Regions from separate parts of the Homo sapiens genome. Here region 2 is linked to region 1. The links come from fine-mapping of genetic effects on gene expression. A gene starts in region 1. The other region holds a variant in brackets. All regions are shown on one strand. Distances are between the middles of the regions.

Evidence for each region. PIP is the estimated chance that this variant, and not a neighbour inherited with it, causes the effect.
Region 2: its variant is fine-mapped to the expression of MPDU1 in whole blood (TOPMed, PIP above 0.99). The same link has a PIP of 0.9 or more in blood mononuclear cells.

Annotation. Positions count from the first base shown.
Region 1 is chr17:7,578,536-7,587,089 of GRCh38, reverse strand. MPDU1 (mannose-P-dolichol utilization defect 1) reads right to left here and starts at 3,238. Exons shown (of 7, transcript NM_004870.4): 1 at 3,125-3,238; 2 at 1,293-1,358; 3 at 1,012-1,144; 4 at 313-398; 5 at 73-191. The coding sequence starts at 3,227. CD68 (CD68 molecule) reads right to left here and starts at 7,452. Exons shown (of 6, transcript NM_001251.3): 1 at 7,364-7,452; 2 at 6,763-7,280; 3 at 6,505-6,624; 4 at 6,307-6,379; 5 at 6,024-6,194; 6 at 4,979-5,712. The coding sequence starts at 7,412. The coding sequence ends at 5,579. It overlaps MPDU1-AS1 (MPDU1 antisense RNA 1), which reads left to right and starts at 2,998. Exons shown (of 2, transcript NR_136402.2): 1 at 2,998-3,172; 2 at 4,927-5,116. EIF4A1 (eukaryotic translation initiation factor 4A1) reads right to left here. Exons shown (of 11, transcript NM_001416.4): 11 at 8,084-8,554. It also overlaps SENP3-EIF4A1. RefSeq lists enhancers at 1,793-2,665, 2,900-3,429, 2,666-3,540, 3,540-3,589, 3,541-4,414 and 2 more and a silencer at 8,263-8,451.
Region 2 is chr17:7,611,465-7,621,859 of GRCh38, reverse strand. It overlaps FXR2 (FMR1 autosomal homolog 2), which reads left to right and starts at 6,963. Exons shown (of 17, transcript NM_004860.4): 1 at 6,963-7,408. The coding sequence starts at 7,328. It also overlaps a transcript of SHBG not described here and the pseudogene TRUND-NNN6-1. RefSeq lists silencers at 1,942-2,142, 6,719-6,768, 6,879-7,408. The variant C/T (reference allele first, on the strand shown) is at 5,776.

The sequences.
Region 1 (8,554 bases):
CACACTTTGATCTTCTACTCTTCCCCCCCACCCTGCCCCCACAACATCTTGTCCCTTGCTCCTGGTACCCACCCTCCCCACCACCACAGCAGGCACATTGGAGGCCTGGAGCAGGGTGACTACAGTCAAGGGCGTCAGAGGTGAGAGAAGCACCAGCAGGACCAGGCCGTAGCAAGCGAGGAAAGCGACACCTAGGGGTGGGGAGACAGGAGTCCTTGTCAATCTCTCCACATCATTTGGCTTTCCCAGACCTGAGTTCCCAGCAGGGTTCCCAGGAACCACACAGCCTGCTCTTGGGTAAGTCCCCAGCACCTTTCACAGTCTGTCCTCTGTAGTGCATGACCAGGAAGCAGATGGTGATCGTCTGGAGCATCAGGAATAAGGCTTCACCCCAAGAGCTGCAGAGTCAAGAGTTGGGAGGAAGAAAGGCGGGCCTAGAAAGAGGCAGGGAAAGCCTCCATAGCCCATCCATCCAGGGACACTATGCTCTGATCACGCTTCTCTACAGCCCCCACACGGGACTGGCTCATTCTGAATCGTGGCCATTCTCGGGATGCTCACCCCTTCTCAAGATCACCTCCACTGGTGATGATTAGGTTTCTAAAAGGGCTTAAAACTTTCCTAGCCCCTTGTCCCTTTTTTTTTTTTTTAAGACTGAGTTTCGCTCTTGTTGCCCAGGCTGGAGTGCAGTGGCGCAATCTTGGCTCACTGCAACCTCTGCCTCCCAGGTTCAAGTGATTCTCCTGCCTCAGCCTCCCAAGTAGCTGGGATTACAGGTGCCCATCACCACACCCAGCTAATTTTGTATTTTTAGTAGAGACGGGGTTTCACCATGTTGGCCAGTTCGAACTCCTGACCTCAGGTGATCCACCCGCCTCGGCCTCCCAAAGTGCTGGGGTTACAGGTGCAAGCCACTGGGCCCGGCCACTTTGCTGCCTTGTAACCTCCTTCACCTTAATCCCCATTAGAGTTGTGGGTATTACCCTTGGGGTGGAAGGGTGGGCCCCTCACCTGAATGGGAAGTTGTTAGTGATGCTGTAGACCATGGTCCCAGTCAATGCCACTAGCTCCAGCATTACAGACTGGAGACTCAACCCTTCAGCACTCTTGGCTCCCAGGATTTTAAACACCTGGGGCAGCTTTACTAGGGGAAAGATGAGAAAAGTAGGACTGAGGACTCTCCATTCTTTGGGATGCAACACAACAGCTATAGAACGAACACCCACACAGTTGATGGCCTCTCAGCACCTCCACCCCAACCCAACAGCTGGAAAGAAAGATAAGAGACATACCTAGAAGTGAGCCAGCCACAATGCCCAGCCCCAGGCCTTTGCTGAGGAGAATCTTGAGGCAGGGGACTGAGGAGAGAAAAAAGGGTAAGCAGACAGGAGATGTCTGAAACCCAGGCCAGGGCTTGAAGCTCCTGTGGGCTCTCCCCGAGCCCCCTTACCCACACCAGGGTCTTGCATTGTCTTGGGGGGAGGAGAGGCGGAGGGCAGTGAGAAAGTCCTGGTCCTTCCTGCTCCAAACCACCACACTTTTTTTTTTTTTTGGAGACAGAGTCTTGCTCTGTCACCCAGGCTGGAGTGCAGTGGCCCAATCTCAGCCCACTGCAGCCTCTGCCTCTTGGGTTCAAGCAATTCTCTTGTCTCAGCCTCCCAAGTAGCTAGAATTACAGGCACACACCACCATGCCCGGTTAATTTTTGTGTTTTTAGTAGAGACAGGGTTTCACCATGTTGGCCAGGCTGGTCTCGAACTCCTGACCTCAGATGATCCACCTGCCTCAGCCTCCTTAAAGTGCTGGGATTATAAGCTCGAGCTACCGCACCGGGCCCCAGACTGTTACTTTCCAAAACAGCTTTTCTCCGATGCCTACCACCCCCCACATCCAATCTTCCATTCCCTATAAATTAACACCCAAACTTGGCTTGACCTCCACGGCTCTCCATTGCTTCCCCATATAAAGCTGAGAAATGCCCAAGAGCTCTCTGATCCTTTATTTCCCTTCTCTGGGCCAATGGGTGCCCCATTTCACATGTCTTCTCTCTCCAAAGACAAGTCTTCATACCATTTTTTTTTTCTTATTTTAATTTTGAGACGGAGTTTCACTCTTGTTGCCCAGGCTGGAGTGCAATGGCACGATCTTGGCTCACTGTAACCTCTGTCTCCCGGGTTTAAGCGATTCTCCTGCCTCAGCCTCCCGAGTAGCTGGGATTACAGGCGCCTGCCACAACGCCCGGCTAATTTTTTGTATTTTTAGTAGAGGCGGGGTTTCGCCCTATTGGCCAGGCTGGTCTCGAACGCCTGACCTCAGGTGATCCACCCGCTTCGGCCTCCCAAAGTGCTGGGATTACAGGCGTGAGCCACCGTGCCCGCCCCATACCACTCTTTCTTGAACACTCTGACTGTCCCTGGCCCCTACTCAGGGACTAAACCTTACCCTTTCAAGGCTTGCTTTTATGCCCTGGCCATCCACAACTTCTCTAGCCTTGAAGCCTTCCCCTCAAGGAACTTGGTCTAGTGGGAGTCTGACTCTCACGGGTCATGAATGCGGCTAAAACAAAGTGCCCCACGAGCTCAAGAGAGGTACCATGAACTGACAGGGGCAGACTGACGCTCCCCAAACGGTCTGACGGTGACCCTTGTGGAGCTGTCTCGCAATCAGAAAAAGGAAGGGAGGCAAATTATTCCGAAATCAGACTATGAGCAAACCTGGAGGCTGGAAAGAAAGCAATCAGGGTGGCGGAGCCTTTGGGGGTGCAATGAAGGCCCGATTCATCAGGGGCTTTGAATTAAGTTTAACCCTGCTAGCGATCTAATAAAGGTTGGCATGATTTGACTTAATTTTTATTTTGTTTTATAAAAGTTGACTCTTCGTTTTTCATTGTCGCTACAGCACAAACTCCACAAAGAAGTAATTCCACCCGGTGACTTCCCCACTGGCACTAATATGGTGTCCTCCCTCTAAGGAGCCCGAGACACTTCCGCCCTTCTCAGAAGTGACTTCCGTCCAGCTCGGCATGGCGGCAGTCACTGCCGTCACTTAGTCGCCGATCAAGGCTTGGACTAAGGGCCCACGGTCACTCGAGTAGGACTTGGATCGGATGCTGAATAAAACTCACCGTGAAGCAAGTCCCACTGAACGAAAAGTTGGTCGTAGCATTTCTCAGGTAAAAGAATCGGCACGAGCAGCCGTTTAAGCGGTCCGTCCGCCTCGGCCGCCATATTGCAAAGCTAGCTTCCGCCAGTCTCTCCAGACCGCCATTGACTTTCGTTGCGCGTGCGCGCTGCGGACACTCCGCCTCCCGTTCTTTTCCCGCGGCGAAGCTGGCCCGCCCCGTGCCCCGCTCTTTCTGACGCTACCCACCCTCACTCTAGTGGCGTAAAATAAGTCTCAGTCAGGGACCACGTTTTGGACGCGCTGTTGGAATTGTAAAGCTTGCCGAAGCTGCACGCCTGCGCGGTTAGACCTCCCACGCCTTTGTTGACGCTTCCAGTTTGGAAGCCAGATTTACACCCCTGCCTTTCTCCGCTCCTCCTGCTGGGCGCCATCTTGTCTTCTCCTAGCACACTTTGTATTGTTCGAAGTTGAGAGAGAAGGAGCCGGAGTCTCCGAGGTGGCGTTGGGTGGGGGCGCTACTAGCTCCCGTTCTCTCAGCGTCTCTAGAGGGAAGGGCGCCGGTGGGAGCAGGAGAGTCTGCACCGGGCAGGCCTCCTTAGGTGCCGGGTTGCGCGCAGGGCCCTGTGCTTGTCTCGCCTCCGGTTGGCTCAGGCCTCGGAGCATGAGTGCGCCGGCAACTGCTGGGCCCGGGACAGTGAAGCAGAGGAGGAGGTGGGGGAGGCGAGCCCAGGTCGGGGAAGGGCAGCACCTGAATCACCCTTGGGGCCCAGACCCCCAAGAGTCTCCGGGGAGCCGAGGCCTGGCGAGGCAGTCCCGGGATTCGCCCCCTCCCCGCTGGCCCGAGGGCGCACCACGTGCTGGGCAGAGACTTCGGCGAGGCCGAGTGGACCCTGCAGCGCTGCTTGGGAAAGGGCACCTTGGACTACCTGGTGGGGGCGTTGTGCTTCGTTACCGACCGCCGGGACGCCAACCCACGGTGCCCACCCGTGCGTCATTCCGCTGTGGATCAGCCCTTTGGCGGCCCCCCTCCAAAGTCTACAAGGTCACACGGATGTCTGCAGGCAGAGGTGGGGCTGCTGGGGCCCTGCCAGGTGAGGGCTGCCCTTGTGGGGCAGTCTCTGGGCCTTGGAGGCCGGAAGCCTCCTGGGGCTCCTACGGCTGGGGGGTGCTGCTCATCCTGGCTCCCAGGGATTGCGCCGTAGCCAGCTGTAATGGGTGGGACTGGCGCTCACTGCTGGTGCAGGCTGTGGCCATCTGGGAGGTCCTTTCTGGAATCTGGACCTTGGCTGTCCTGAGAGTGACACTCCTCATCTCAAGTACTGGGGGCATGAAGTTAGGCTTGGCAGGTGGCCCCGTGTGGGGGGCATGCTGTTCCCAGGAGCCCCCAGTGGAGGTCAGAGTACCCACTGCTCCTTCTTGATTCAACCCCTTGTAGGTGGGATAGGAGCATGCCAGGTGCTGCGAGGGTTTAATCGGGCTCTTCTGCTGGCCTTGAATATGGTGGACAGGACAGGACATTCTCATTGCTCAGGAGCCACTGGCGCTGCCTTTGGGAATGAAGTTCCACAGCCCCCCACTCATTGCTTTGGCTGTCTGCTGCATTTGAAACTGTACGAGGGTCAGGAAGAAGGCTGCGGGGATGAATGGCTCTACCGGCTTGCCACGGATGGGGAACTGGAGCAGCCAGTGGCCCCAAGAGGAGGAAGGAAGGGAGGCACGGCAGACCCAACACCAGCTGTGCCAGGCTTTGGGGGGTGAACCCATGAGGCATCGTCACACACTGACATTTTCATCCCTCCTCAGCAGCTGCTTCCGGCTCCCTGAGACCCAGCCATGGAAGGCATAGAAAGGCATGTGACAAGAAACTCATGGCTTTTAATCCTGGCAGGACAAGGAAAACCCCGTCAAAGATTTGCATAAATTTTGCTGCTCTCCTGCTGGGGGGGGGGGGGGGGCAGTTCGTCACATTTAATAAAATTCTCTCCCTCCCTTCTCCCGACTGCATTATCTCATATTTATTTATTTGAGACAGTCTGGCTCTGTCGCCCAGGCTGGAGTGCAGTGGCGCGATCTTGGCTTAGTGGCGCGATGACGGCTCACTGCAACCTCCACCTCCTGGGTTCAAGCAGTTCTGCCTCAGCCTCCCAAGTAGCTGGGATTACAGGCCAGCTGGGATTACGCCGCCACACCTGGCTAATTGTATTTTTAGTAGAGACAGGGTTTCACCATGTTGGCCAGGCTGGTCTCAAACTCCTGACCTCCAGTGATCCACCTGCCTCAGCCTCCCAAAGTGCTGGGATTACAGGCATGAGCCGTCATGCCCGGCTTTCTTTTTGTTCTTCAAGAAAGGGAAGGAAAATAACATTGTCTTTGAGCCAGTTGCGTGTCGAGGAAATAAGGGTACCCCCCCACCACACCCCAACCCCCTCAGTGCCCTGGGGTTTGAAGCAAATGCTCAGAGGGCCTGGTAGGCGGATGGGCGTCTCCGGATGATGCAGAAAGCAATAAGCACCAGGGCGAGGAGGCCAAGAAGGATCAGGCCGATGATGAGAGGCAGCAAGATGGACCGGTCACTGGGGCAGGAGAAACCTGGCGGAAGGATAGGGCAGGTAGGTATTTGCAGTGACGTGCTGGTTGGGATAAAGGTGGGAGGAGGGAATGGGGGGATGCTGGGGAGTAGGAGATTGGTGAGGAGCTCACCGCAGTGACTCAGCAGTGATAAAAGGGGGAAACTGGCAGAGTCTTGTAGAGGATGGAAAGAAAGCTGCCCTGTAGCCATGACAAGCTGGGAGAGCGAGATTTGGGGGGTTAAGAAGAGAGATGAGTGGCTTATGGGCCTGGGGAAGGGGTTTTCAGTGCAGTGGGAGGATTCTAGGAGGGAAGGAGTAGGTAGGTCTTACTTTGCCCAAAGACCCCTGTGTGGGGCAGCTGAGCAGCCTGGAGCCTCAGGGAGAGCAGGTCGAGGTGGACAGCTGGTGAAAGAATGATGCTCGAGTTGCTGCAACTGAAGCTCTGCCCCAGGGGTGCTTGGAGATCTCGAAGGGATGCATTCTGAGCCGAGAATGTCCACTCTGGAGGAGTGAGGAAGGGTCAGATCCTATCCACCTCCCTGGCCCCAGCTTAGTCCTTTCAGGAACCCTGGCGTCTAGTGGTAGCAATGAGAAAGGGAAGGAGGTTACTTACGTGCTGCGTGGGGGAAGGACACATTGTACTCCACCGCCATGTAGCTCAGGTAGACAACCTTCTGCTGGAGGTCCTGTGGGGCGAAGAGGAAGGCGCAGGTGGTATCCCTCTCCACAGAGGAAGGAGTAGCGTGTGGGATTGGGAGGGGAGGGGCGCCGGGAGGCTGAGTGAGGGGTGAGACTGAGGTCATGGCTATACCTGCATGAATCCAAAGCTGAGGTGTCCATAGGGGAATGAGAGAAGCAGGTGGGGATGGGCACCCTCACAGCTTCCCTGGACCTTGGTTTTGTTGGGGTTCAGTACAGAGATGCCCCAGGCCTGCGGAAGTTAAAGACTGGAAGGTCACAAGACTGCATGCGATGCCGGCCAAGGTTCCCTGTCCCCTCTTCCTTCTTCCCTCTGAGCCTATATCCAGTCCTGCCTCCCTCCCCTCTCATCCCCCAGTTTTAGCTTTACCTCTCCTCCACCCTGGGTTGTGTACATGACTCGAATCTGAATCTGGGCTTGGAGGTGGACACAGGGCTGGGAACCATTGGTCCACGTGTAGTCTCCAATGGTCTCCTTGGAGGTTGGGCTAGGACTCGGAGAGGGTGGAGGTGGTTCTGGGTGGGCAGAACTGGTGAATCCTGGGCTGGTGGCAGTGCTGTTGCTTGTTGGATGAACCGTGGCATTTCCATGACTAGTGGTGGCAGGACTGTGAGTGGCAGTTGAGGGTCCCTGGCTGGTGGCAGTGCTATTGCTTGTTGGATGAACTGTGACGTTTCCATGGCTGGTGGTGGTGGGGTTGTGAGTGGCAGTCGTGGGTCCGTGGCTGGTGGTGCCTGTGGTGGTTGTCCTGTGAGTGGTGGTTTTGTGGCTCTTGGTAGTCCTGTGGCTGGTTGTTCCAGTGCTCTCTGTAACCGTGGGTGTCACCGTGAAGGATGGCAGCAAAGTAGCTGATTTTTTGTGAGGACAGTCATTCCCTGTCCCCTGGGCTTTTGGCAGAGAGGAGATGGTTAGCAACCCAGGGCAGGCTCCCTCCCAGGGGCCCCCTCCCCTCAGCCTCCTTCCTCCTTACCTGCCAGTAGCCCCAGCAGGGCCCCCGAGAAAAGCACAGCCAGCCTCATGGCTGAACCGCCTCACCCAAAGTCCAGCTAGGCTGTCTGCACCAGTTGCTCAACCCTGCTCCCTCAGCCCTCTCTTGGAAAGGAGGAAATGAAAGTCTCACTTCCTGTACTGGAGATGATCCCACCCACAGCCTGACTCAGGGGCCTCAGCTCTAGCCACCTCTCTCTTAGTCATTAGTTTTTGTAATTAAGTTAGGGGACTGTTGGCCCTGCTTCATCAGGGCAAAGTCAACAGTGTCACATGGGTGCAAACGGAGTCCTAGGGCAGTTGATCCACAGGGATCCATGTGTCAAACTCAGCGAAACTTGCTTGGCAGTTGTGGCAAGTAGCTATGGGAACAGCTGAGGTACAGGCCCCTCCCTTGGTGGGGAAATCGGTTTCCACTCCTTTCCCCTGGACCTCTGGGCTGACCCCTGTACTACTTCCTCTTGGCTGAGGCATGTGAGGGGCTTGTGACCATCCACACCCAGCCCTTTACAGAGGGGCAGCACTCCAGTCAGCATTGTCATTCACAGAGCCGAGAACATGGCTTTCCAGCGTCTGAGAACTCAGATGGTGACAAGAAAGCAACAGCCCAAAGGTAACCATCTGCTGGGGAAGGGGGGAGCAGAGATGCACCCAGTAGCAGGTGGGAGAGGGAAGGGGAGGTAAGAAATGAGAAGCCCAAACAGGCAGTTTCCAAGTCATTTTATTCAGAATTTTGTGTTTGTTTCCTGAATCAATAAATACTATACAAAACAATGTAAAAATGGCTACCATTTTCTCTCCCCTGCTTCCCCCCACCTGGGGACAACCCCCTGGGCAACCTCACTTAGGGGTTTTAGGGGTTCTCCCTCCAGATTTGGTCCAGCAAATGAGGCTGAGTGACATAGTCCCTTGAATCACTTTCAAAGGAGCTCAGCTGAGGTGAGGAGAGCCTCTGGGATCTGGAGGTTACTAGGTTAGGGAAATGGATTAGTGTTTTTTTTTTTTTTTTGGGAGAAGAGCCGGCGCCTGGGGCAAGAGCCTACCCCAAAGAAAAGGGTGTCTAAAATGTTCACGGTTCCTTCTTTTGCCTCAAAAAGTGACATTTATTCAAAGAAAAAAAATGACAAGATGTCCATCCCTTGGCTCCCTTCCCTCCCCCCTCCTGCTGCTCCTC
Region 2 (10,395 bases), 34 kb before region 1:
ATCTAAAAAAAAAAAATTAAAATGTCTCTCAAATCTGTCCATAGCTCTATCCTTACTTGCAAAGTTCTCACTCTTTGAAAATTGCCACAACCTCCTTACTGGTCTCCCAGCCTCCTTCTGTAATTTCTCCCCCAATTCCATGGGATTTTTTTTTTCACAGATATACATTATGTACTTTATTTTATTATTTAAATTTAATTTATTTCTTTATTTTGAGACCAGTTTATGCAGCTGGTTTTTTTTTTTTTTTTTTTTTTTAGACGGAGACTCGCTCTGTTGCCCCCAGGCTGGAGTGTAGTGGCATGATCTTGGCTCACTGCAACCTCTGCCTCCCAGGTTCAAGTGATTCTCCTGCCTCAACCTCTTGAGTAGCTGGGATTACAGGCGTGCACCACCACGCCCAGCTAATTTTTGTATTTTTTTTTAGTAGAGATGGGTTTTCACCATGTTGGCCAGGCTGGTCTCAAACTCCTGACCTCAGATGATCTGCCCGCCTCAGCCTCCCAAAGTGCTGGGATTACAGGTGCGAGCCACTGTGTCAAGCCCATAATTTTTGTATTTTTAGTAGACATGGGGTTTCTCCGTGTTGGCCAGGCTGGTCTCGAAATCCTGGCCTCAAGCAATCCTCCATCCACATAAATGATAATACATTTGCCCACGTGGCGATCAAATCCACAACCTTGGTGTTAGCACCTGGCTCTAACCAACTGAGCTAACTGGCTATTGCAAATCTTGATTTTTTTTTTTTTTTTTTTTTTTTTTTTTGTGACAGGGTCTTGCTCTGTTGCCCAGGCCAAGTGCAGTGGTGCGATCATGGCTCACTGCAACCTTGACCTCCTGGGCTCAAGTGATTCTCCCACCTCAGCCTCTCAAGTATCTGGGATCACAGTCAGGTGCTATCAAGCCTGGCTAATGAAAGCAAAATTTTTGTCTGGGCACGGTGGCACATGCCCGTAATTCTAGCACTCTGGGAGGCCGAGGCAGGTGGCTCACCTGAGGTCAGGAGTTCGCGACCAGCCTGACTACCATGGTGAAACCCTGTCTCTACTAAATACAAAAAAATTAGCTGGGTGTGGTGGCACATGTCTGTAATCCAAGCTATTTGGGAAACTGAGACAGGAGAATCACTTGTACCTGGGAGGCAGAGGTTGTAGAGAGCCGAGATTGCACCATTGCACTCCAGCCTGGGTAACAAGAGCAAAACTCCGTCCCCCAAAAAAACAAAAAAAAAAATTATTAATCTGGGCACTGTAGCTCACGCCTGTAATCCCAGCACTTTGGAAGGCTGAGGCGGGTGGATCACTTGAGGTCAGGAGTTCGAGACCAGCCTGGCTAACATGGTGAAACCCCACCCGTCTCTACTAAAAATACAAAAATTAGCCAGATGTGGGGGCAAACGGCTGTAATCCAAGCTACTTGGGAGGCTCAGGCAGGAGGATCTCTTGAACCCGGGAGGCAGGGGTTGCAGTGAGCCAACATCGTGCCACTGCACTCTAGCCTAGGCAACAGAGTAAGACTCTGTCTCAAAAAACAAACAAACAAACAACAAATTTTTTATTGGAGACTAGGTCTCACTATGTTGTCCAGGCTAGTATTGGACTCCAGAGCTCAAGCAATCCTCCCACTTTGGCCTCCCAAAGGAGGGAGGATTACAGGTGTGAGCCACCACGCCTGGCCAGTATTACCACTTCTTGATGTCTCTTTTTCTTTTTCAATTTTTTCAATTTTTTTTTTTTTTTGGAGAGGGATAAGGAGTCTTTACTTTTTTAGAGACAGGGTCTTTTTCTGTTGCCTAGACTGGAGTACAGTGGCACGATCATAGCTCACTGTAACCATGAACTTCTGGCCTTAACTGATCCTCTTGCCTTGGCCTCCCAAAGGGCTGGGATTACAGGCATGTGCCACTGCTCTTGGCCTTACTTCTTAAGGTTGAGGCTGAAGTGGGGCATGTTTGAGCCACTGCACTCCAGTGTTTTTTGTTTAGGCATTAGCTATTGGCTTTGCACTGTTGAGGATGAAAAGCTAGCCCTTCAGAACACGGATCACTGAGGTTAAAAAAAGAGAAGCACTATTTTTCCAATCTGCTTATCATCCCACCTCCACTTCCCATCCTCCTGTGTTTAGTGTTTACTTTTTTTTTTTTTTTTTGAGACGAAGTTCCGCTCTTGTTGCCCAGGCTGGAGTGCAATGGCATGATCTCGGCTCATGCAGAGGCAACCTCTGCCTCCCGGGTTCAAGCAATTGTCCTGCCTCAGCCTCCTGGGTAGCTGGGATTACAGGTGCATGCCACCATGCCTGGCTAATTTTTGTATTTTTAGTAGAGATGGGGTTTCACCATGTTGGTCAGGCTGGTCTCGAACTCCTGACCTCATGATCCGCCTATCTTGACCTCCCAAAGTGCTGGGATTACAGGCATGAGCCACCGCACCAGCCTTAGCATTTACATTATTATGATTTTTTTTTTTTTTTGAGATGGAGTTTCACCCTTAATGCCCAGGCTGGAGTGCAATGGCGCGATCTTGGCTCACTGCAACCTCTGCCTGCTAGGTTCAAGCAATTCTCCTGCTTCAGCCTCCCGAGTAGCTGGGATTACAGGCATGTGCCACCACACCTGGCTAATTTTGTATTTTTAGTAGAGATGGAGTTTCTCCATGTTGGTCAGGCTGGTCTTGAACTCCTGACCTCAGGTGATCTGCCCACCTCGGCCTCCCAAAATGCTGGGATTACAGGTGTGAGCCACCATGCCTGGCCTCATTATTATGATTATTATGATTATACGAATACACGTATGATCCATGTGGATAGTTACAATTCTTTTTCTTTCCTGTACCATTTTTGTTTTCCCTGGAATTAATAACTGCCTTGTCCTCTCTGTTTGCTTAGTTTCCTGTGTACTCTAATTTATCCCCAAATTCTCCCTTAATTAATCTCTTATAAGGATATACAAACACTTAGGGATTTCAATCTACGTCATTTTGAAGAACTTTCTCAAAAAGCTCTTAGACCTGCTCCAGTCCAGAGAGGCGATCTTGAGGCTGCGCAATTGGGATCTCCCTTCACCTTTATCCTGGGGATCCCCTTTGCCTCTCTCTTGTGTTGACGTCCTGTTTCCTGGAACCTGTGTTTCCTCTTTCTATGTTTACTCTTCTTATTTTGATGGAGCTTTTTGAGAAAGAGTACCGGGAGGTAAATTTGTTGGGAACTTAAAAGCCTGAAAATGTCTGTTCTATTACTGCACTTAATTGAGAGTGTGGGCCGGGCGCAGTGGCTCATGCCTATAATCCCAACACTTTGGGCAGCCGAGGTGGGTGACCCACCTGAGGTGAGGAGTTTGAGACCAGCCTGGCCAACGTGGTGAAACCCCGTCTTTACTAAAAATACAAAAAAAACAAAAACAAAAACAAAAACAAAAAAAACAAACCTAGCCAGCTGTGGCAGTGGGCACCTATAATCACAGCTACTCAGGAGGCTGAGGCAAGAGAATCACTGGAACCTGGGAGGCAGAGGTTGCAGTGAGCCGAGATCATACCACTGCACTCCAGTCTGAGTGGCAGAGTAAGACTCTATCTCAACAACAAAAAAATATTGAGAGTGTGGCTAGGTATAGGAAACGAGGTTGGAAATAATTTTTTTTTTTGAGACAGAATCTTTCTCTGTCACCCAGGCTGTATGTAGTGCAGTGGTGTGATCTCGGCTCACTGCAACTTCAGCCTCCCAAGTTCAAGAGATTCTCCTCCCTCAGCTTCCTGAGTAGTTGGGATTACAGGCACACGCTACCACGTGTGGCTAATTTTTATATTTTTAGTAGAGATGGGGTTTCACCATGTTGGCCAGGCTGGTCTCAAACTCCTGACCTCAGATGATCCACCCACCTCGGCATCCCAAAGTGCTGGGATTACAGGCGTGAGCCGCCGCACCCAGCTAATTTTTGTAGTTTTGGTAGAGAAAGGGTTTCGCCATGTTGCCCAGGCTGCTCCTGAACGCCCGAGCTCAAGTGATCTGCCTGCTTCAGCCTCGCAAAGTGCCAGGATTACAGGCATGAGCCACCACACCTGGCCTTGGAAAATTTTGTTGAATAATTATTACTATTGATTTTAGATGATTTTATCCTTTCCAGATAATTATTTCTGTTATCACTTTCTGGAATTCTGGTTATTCAGATGTTGTATCCCATGGACTAATCCTTTAATTTTCTTATACTTTATTTTCCTTTCTTCTATCGCCTTTATTTATTTTTGTTTTTTATTTTAATTTTTTGAGATGGAGTCTCGCTCTGTCACCCAGGCTGGAGTGCAGTGGCACAATCTTGGCTCACTGCAACCTCTGCCTCCTGGGTGCAAGCGATTCTCCTGCCTCAGTCTCCCGAGTAGCTGGGACTACAAGCGCGTGCCACCATGCCCAGCTAATTTTTGTATTTTTAGTAGAGATGGAATTTCACCAGACTGGTCTTGAACTCCTGACCTCAGGTGACCTCAGGTGATCCACCCGCCTCAGCCTCCCAAAGTGCTGGGATTACAGGCATGAGCCCTGTGCCTGGCCATGGTTGCAATATTAATAATTATTATAAATATTAATAATTTTTCCAGTGTCTTTCTTCTGCCATCACACTATGAAGTCAGAGACTTCCAAGTCTGTTTGTCTCCACCATTAAATACAAAAATTTAAAAATTAGCCAGATGTGGTGGCTAAGCTCAAAGGGCAAAAAAAAAATAAAAGTAAATTCATCACCTTATTTTCTAAACCTTTATCTCCTATGTTATCTCTTCCATGATTGGCATTACCATTTACTCTAATCCAAGAAGTGGATGGAACATAGGACAACTCCCAGAATGTGAAGTTTTCCTGCTACTACCCTTATTTCATGACAGTTTTTCCTATTTTGAATTTCCCCAGCATTATTTATTATTATTATTACTATTTTTTGAGACAGAGTGTCGCTCTTTTTGCCCAGGCTGGAGTGCAATGGCACAATCTGGGCTCACTGCAACCTCTGCCTCCCAGGTTCAAGCAATTCTCTTGCCTCAGCCTCCCAAGTAGCTGGGTTTACAGGCATGCACCACCATGCCCAGCTAATTTTTGTATTTTTAGTAGAGATGGGGTTTCACCATGTTGGCCAGGCTGGTCTTGAACTCCTGACCTTGTGATCCACCCATCTTGGCCTCCCAAAGTGCTGGGATTACAGGCGTGAGCCACCGCGCCGGGCCACTATTATTATTATTTGTTGTTGTTGTTGTTGAGATGGAGTCTCGCTCTGTCGCCCCAGCTGGAGTGCAGTGGCACGATCTCCGCTCACTGCAACCTCCGCCTCCTGGGTTCACGCCATTCTCCTGCCTCAGCCTCCCGAGTAGCTGGGACTACAGGCGCCCGCCACCACGCCCAGCTAATTTTTTTTTTTTTTTTTTTTTTTTGTATTTTTAGTTGAGATGGGGTTTCACCGTGTTAGCCAGGATGGTCTCGATCTCCTGACCTCGTGATCCGCCCGTCTCGGCCTCCCAAAGTGTTGGGATTATAGGCATGAGCCACCGCGCCCTGCCATTATTATTATTTTTAAAGAAGAAATTTCACTCATTGCCCAGGCTGGAGTGTGGTGGCATGATATCCACTCACTGCAACCTCCACCTTCCTAGGTTCAAGCGATTCTCCTGCCTCAGCCTCCTGAGTAGCTGGGACTCCTTCCGAGTAGCTGGAACTACCACGGCTAATTTTTTGTATTTTAGTAGAGACGAGGTTTCACCATGTTGGCCAGAATGGTCTCCATCTCCTGACCTCGTGATC[C/T]GCCCGCCCGTGATCTCGGCCTCCCAAAGTGCTGGGATTACAGGCCTGAGCCACCGCGCCCGTCCTAATTTTTGTATTTTTAGTAGAAACAGGGTTTCGCCCTGTTGAGGCTGGTGTCAAACTTTTGGGCTCAAGTGATCCACCGCCTGAGCCTCCTAAAGTGCTGGGATTACAGGAGTGAGCCACAGCGCCCGTCTGAAACTATTCTTAAAGCTTTCTTTCTATTCTTTCTTTCTTTTTTTTTTTTTTTTGAGACTGAGTCTTGCTCTGTCGCCCAGGCTGGAGTGCAATGGTGCGATCTTGGCTCACTGCAACTTCTGCCTCCCAGGTTCAAGGTAGTCTCCTGCCTCAGCCTCCCGAGTATCTGGGATTACAGGCGCGTGTCACCACGCCCGGCTAATTTTTGTATTTTATTAGATGCGGGGTGGGGGGGGGGGTGGGTTTCACCATTTTGGCCACGCTGGTCTCGAACCCCTGACCTCAGGTGATCCGAGGACCTCAGGTGATCCACCTGCCTCGGCCTCCCAGAGCGCTGGGATTACAGGCGTGAGCCACCGCGCCCGGCCAAAACTTTCATTGTATCACAATCTCTTCAAGGTAAGAGCCATGACTGTTAAATCTACTACAGTAGAGAGTTACAGATTCTTAAAATATCGGCGATGCATACGCGAAGAGGGTAAAGCTCAGCGCGTGCGCACCAAGCACCTTTTTCCTTGCGGCGACTCCTCTTCTTTTTTTTTTCTTTTTGGAGCGTGCGCACCAAGAAAGACAAAGGTGGGGAAAGTGACCAAGCAGTCGTTCAGGCGCATGCCCATCCCTAACTTGTCCAAGCCCGGTGGGGCCAGCGGCGGCGGAGTGGGTGTGGCCTGAGCGCTGTGTGACTGTGCGGACGCCGCCCAATCGGACTGAGCGAGCCCGGCCCCTCCCTCCCCCTGATTGGTTGGTTCTCAGTGTTGTGGGGCGGGGAAAGGAAGAGACGGGGTGGCTGGGCGGTGGAGCGGTGAAGAAAGAAGGCTAATCTTGTTCTGCGCAAGCGCTAGCAAGCGACCAGGAGGGGGAGTGAGAGAGTGAAAGGGAATGTGGAAGCCCCGATGCGCTAGCTGGCGCTAGCTGGGGCTCTAACCTTGACGCCTGCGCGGTGGCCCTCGGGGCCCCGCGCGCAGCGGGCGGGTGCCCGGTGCGCCTGCGCAGTAGGCGGCGGTGGCAGGGGGAGGTGGAGGCTGTGGAGCGGCAGCGGCAGCAGCGGGTCCCGGGACTGAGGCAGCAGCGGGGGCGGCGGCGGGCGGAAGCTGAGGTGACGAAGGCAGCGGCGGCGGCGGCCGTTTCCCTCACGGTGGCGGAGACCAAGGCGGCGGCGGCGGACGGGGAGCGGCCCGGCCCCGGCCCCCTGCTCGTTGGCTGTGGCAGGGCCGCCGTGGGGCCGGCCCGGCTCCCGCCCCCCGCGGCTCCCCCTCCGGCTCCTCCTCCGGGGAGACGCCGGGGGCCTGGCCCGGCCCGCACTCAGACTGCTGCTGCAGCCGCCGCCGGGGGAGTCGGAGGCGGTGGCGGCGCCATGGGCGGCCTGGCCTCTGGGGGGGATGTGGAGCCGGGACTGCCCGTCGAGGTGCGCGGCTCCAACGGGGCCTTCTACAAGGTGAGACGGCGCGCCGACTGGGGACGCCGGTCCTTAGCCCCCTCCCCTGGCCGGAGCAGGAACGCGTGGGGCGGGATCGAGCTTCTGGAGCTGAGTCCTGGCCCTTAGAATCTTGGACCCTTGCTCCAACCCGCAGCCTTCCCTGGGAGACCGCTTAGAGTGAACCCTGTTCCTCTTATTTTTGACCCCTCTAAGGCACCTGCACCTGCTTCTACCCCCATCTCCGGGAGAATGAACTTCAGGCCATTATTGTCCCTGGCTTGGCGCTCCCCGCTCCGCAGGAGAGACCCCTTTACCCAGCTTCTAATTGACTGTGTCCGTTGTCTGGTGGAAGACATACCTTAGACCTTAATCACATCTTCCCCACGATCCAAGCACATGGAGAATTGTCTTTCTTCCACACGGTCCCTTTGGGAAGGCCCTCTGTCCCGTAAAAGATCCTTTCATCTTCCTCAGAGAGGCCTCTGCCTACTGGCTCTGGAACACTCACCCCACTTTCATCTTATATTCCGGTTCCCAAGCCAAGGAGAAATGGTCAGATCCATTTACGACGTTTGGCATCTTTGACCTCAGGAACCCTGGGTTGGATCAGTCAAGTTGCTTCCCAGCCAGCCATAAGGTGGCATCTTTCGCAAGTCTCTCTCCCCACCACACCTTGATCTCAAGACCCACTGCTCTACCATTCTACTCAGGAATGGATTTGAGGTCTCACTTAGACCTCAGATACCTTCAGGTCATTCATATAGTTTCTTCGTCTTGAGGCATGTAAGCTTCATAGTCATAATCTCTAAAAGGATCTCTGAAAGGAAGCTTATGAGGTTCCCTTCTGTTTATCTTAAGATTTCCACTTCTTGAAGACTCTTGGCCAACTATCCCAGTTCGGGAATCTGACAACCTTTTTTGGAAGACGGGATCATCTTTCAAAGACCCTTCCTTATTTCACCTCCCCCTTTGCCCAGGATTTGGTTCCTTAGAACTCCTTATAATACCACCTTCCTTATCTGCTCTGAATCTATTTTCTAGGACATTTTTTTCCCATTTAGATTAAGCCAGAGAGAGCCCTTTCTTGCCTCCCAAGAGTTTTTCTTTGTGTGACTGTTGGTATTCTGAACCTCTTGGATTTGATGCCTGGAATTGTCCTAGAGACTCTCCTGATTTCTGTCTCATTCTTTGATTTCACCCTGGGGAGCTGGGGAAGAGATACCTTCCCATGGCATCACTTGTTAAGAGTGGATCCCCCTTCCCCCTTTCCTTCAGTTCCCCTCAGGCCTTTTTCCCCCACTGTAGTCCTCTCTAGTTTCTCATGCCCTTGGAAATGTCTTTCTTTGACTCCTTCTCTAAGTCATATTTTTCTATAACTGCAGAGGGTCTTGTAATTTCTCTTGGGTGGTTTCTGCCTGTACTTCAGTTGCTAAGTGCATTGTAGTCATTTTTTTTTTTTTTTTTTTTTTTTTTGAGATGGAGTCTCGCCCTGTTGCCCAGGCTTGGAGTGCAGTGGTGCGATCTTGGCTCACTGCAAGCTCCGCCTCCCTGGTTCGCGCCATTCTCCTGCCTCAGCCTCCCGAGTAGCTGGGACTACAGGTGCCCACCACCATGCCCGGCTATTTTTTTGTATTTTTAGTAGAGACGGGGTTTCACTGTGTTAGCCAGGATGGTCTCGATCTCCTGACCTAGTGATCCACCTGCTTCGGCCTCCCAAAGTGCTGGGATTACAGGCGTGAGCCACCGCGCCCGGCCATTGTAGTCATTTTTTACTCACTCTTCATACTTACCCATTTTTGCCTTACTTCCCTCATCAGATTTATTTCTCTGCGGTGACTGTGGGTACCCATGTCTAACTTACCTTCTCAATTCAAGTTTTTAGCTTTTTCTCCTAATATTTCTGTATTCCTGTGTAATCCCCAGGAATCACCTTATTCCCTGTCTAGCTGAAGGAAGCTCCCTGCTGATCTCTTTTTGTCATTTTGTGCATACTTGCCTAACTCTTGGGACTTTTTCTTCTAGCCTGCCTCCATAGCATTTCTGTTTTCTTTGGCAAAAGTCTCTAATTCCTTTCTGCTTTTGATAGAGCACATTTGTCTCTCATATCCTTTTCCCCAAACTTGCATTACCTTTGTTGAAATAGCTTCCTAAAGTGGCCCTCCCTGTTTACCTTGGTATCTTTTCCTTCATCTGGGTCCTTACCACCCCCAAATTCTGAGTTCCAAGAAAAGTGATTCTTAAGTTGAGTCCAAGATCAAGATATGATGTTTGCTTTGTTCTAGGAAGCGTAGGAGCCCTGCACAGCTGAGAAAGATTGGTATCCAGTTCAAATGAACTGTATGAGATGGCTGGGAAGGGACACGTTTTCTGTCCCACATATAAGTGTCCAGCAGAAAGTCTCTCTGAATCTTTTCCCTTTCTCCTGTGTGCTGTGGCAGTGATAGACTTGAATAGATGGGGACCAGGATACTGTGATTCAGAGAGTAGAGTTTGGGGTTGAGCTGAAAGCCAGGTAATGTGGTAATGTGGATCTGGGCAGGTTAGCATTTTCTGCCCTGTTCCTGAGTTAAAAACCACAAATCCCTAAATTCAGGCTAATCTTCCACTCTCAGTACCCTACAGATACTTATCCGTTTTGACCTTGCTGCTGATTTAATATTCATGACTCAGCAAACTTGGGATGGGTCAGGGAGTATTTACACTGCTTCTGGAATTGTACATTTGGGAAGGTCCCTTTCTCCTCTCTCAGAATTGGGCCCTGTTGTCAGTTTTCTTTTCTTTCTTTTCCTTTTTTTTTTATTTGAGACAGGGTCTCCCTCTGTCATCCAGGCTGGAGTACAGTGGCGTGATGTCGTCTCACTGCAGCCTCCGCCTCCCAGGTTCAAGTGATTCTTGTGCCTCAGCCTCCCGAGTAGCTGGGATTACAGGTGTGCAACACCATGCCTGGCTAATTTTTGTATTTTCAGTAGAGACGGGGTTTCGCTATGTTGGCCAGGCTGGTTTCT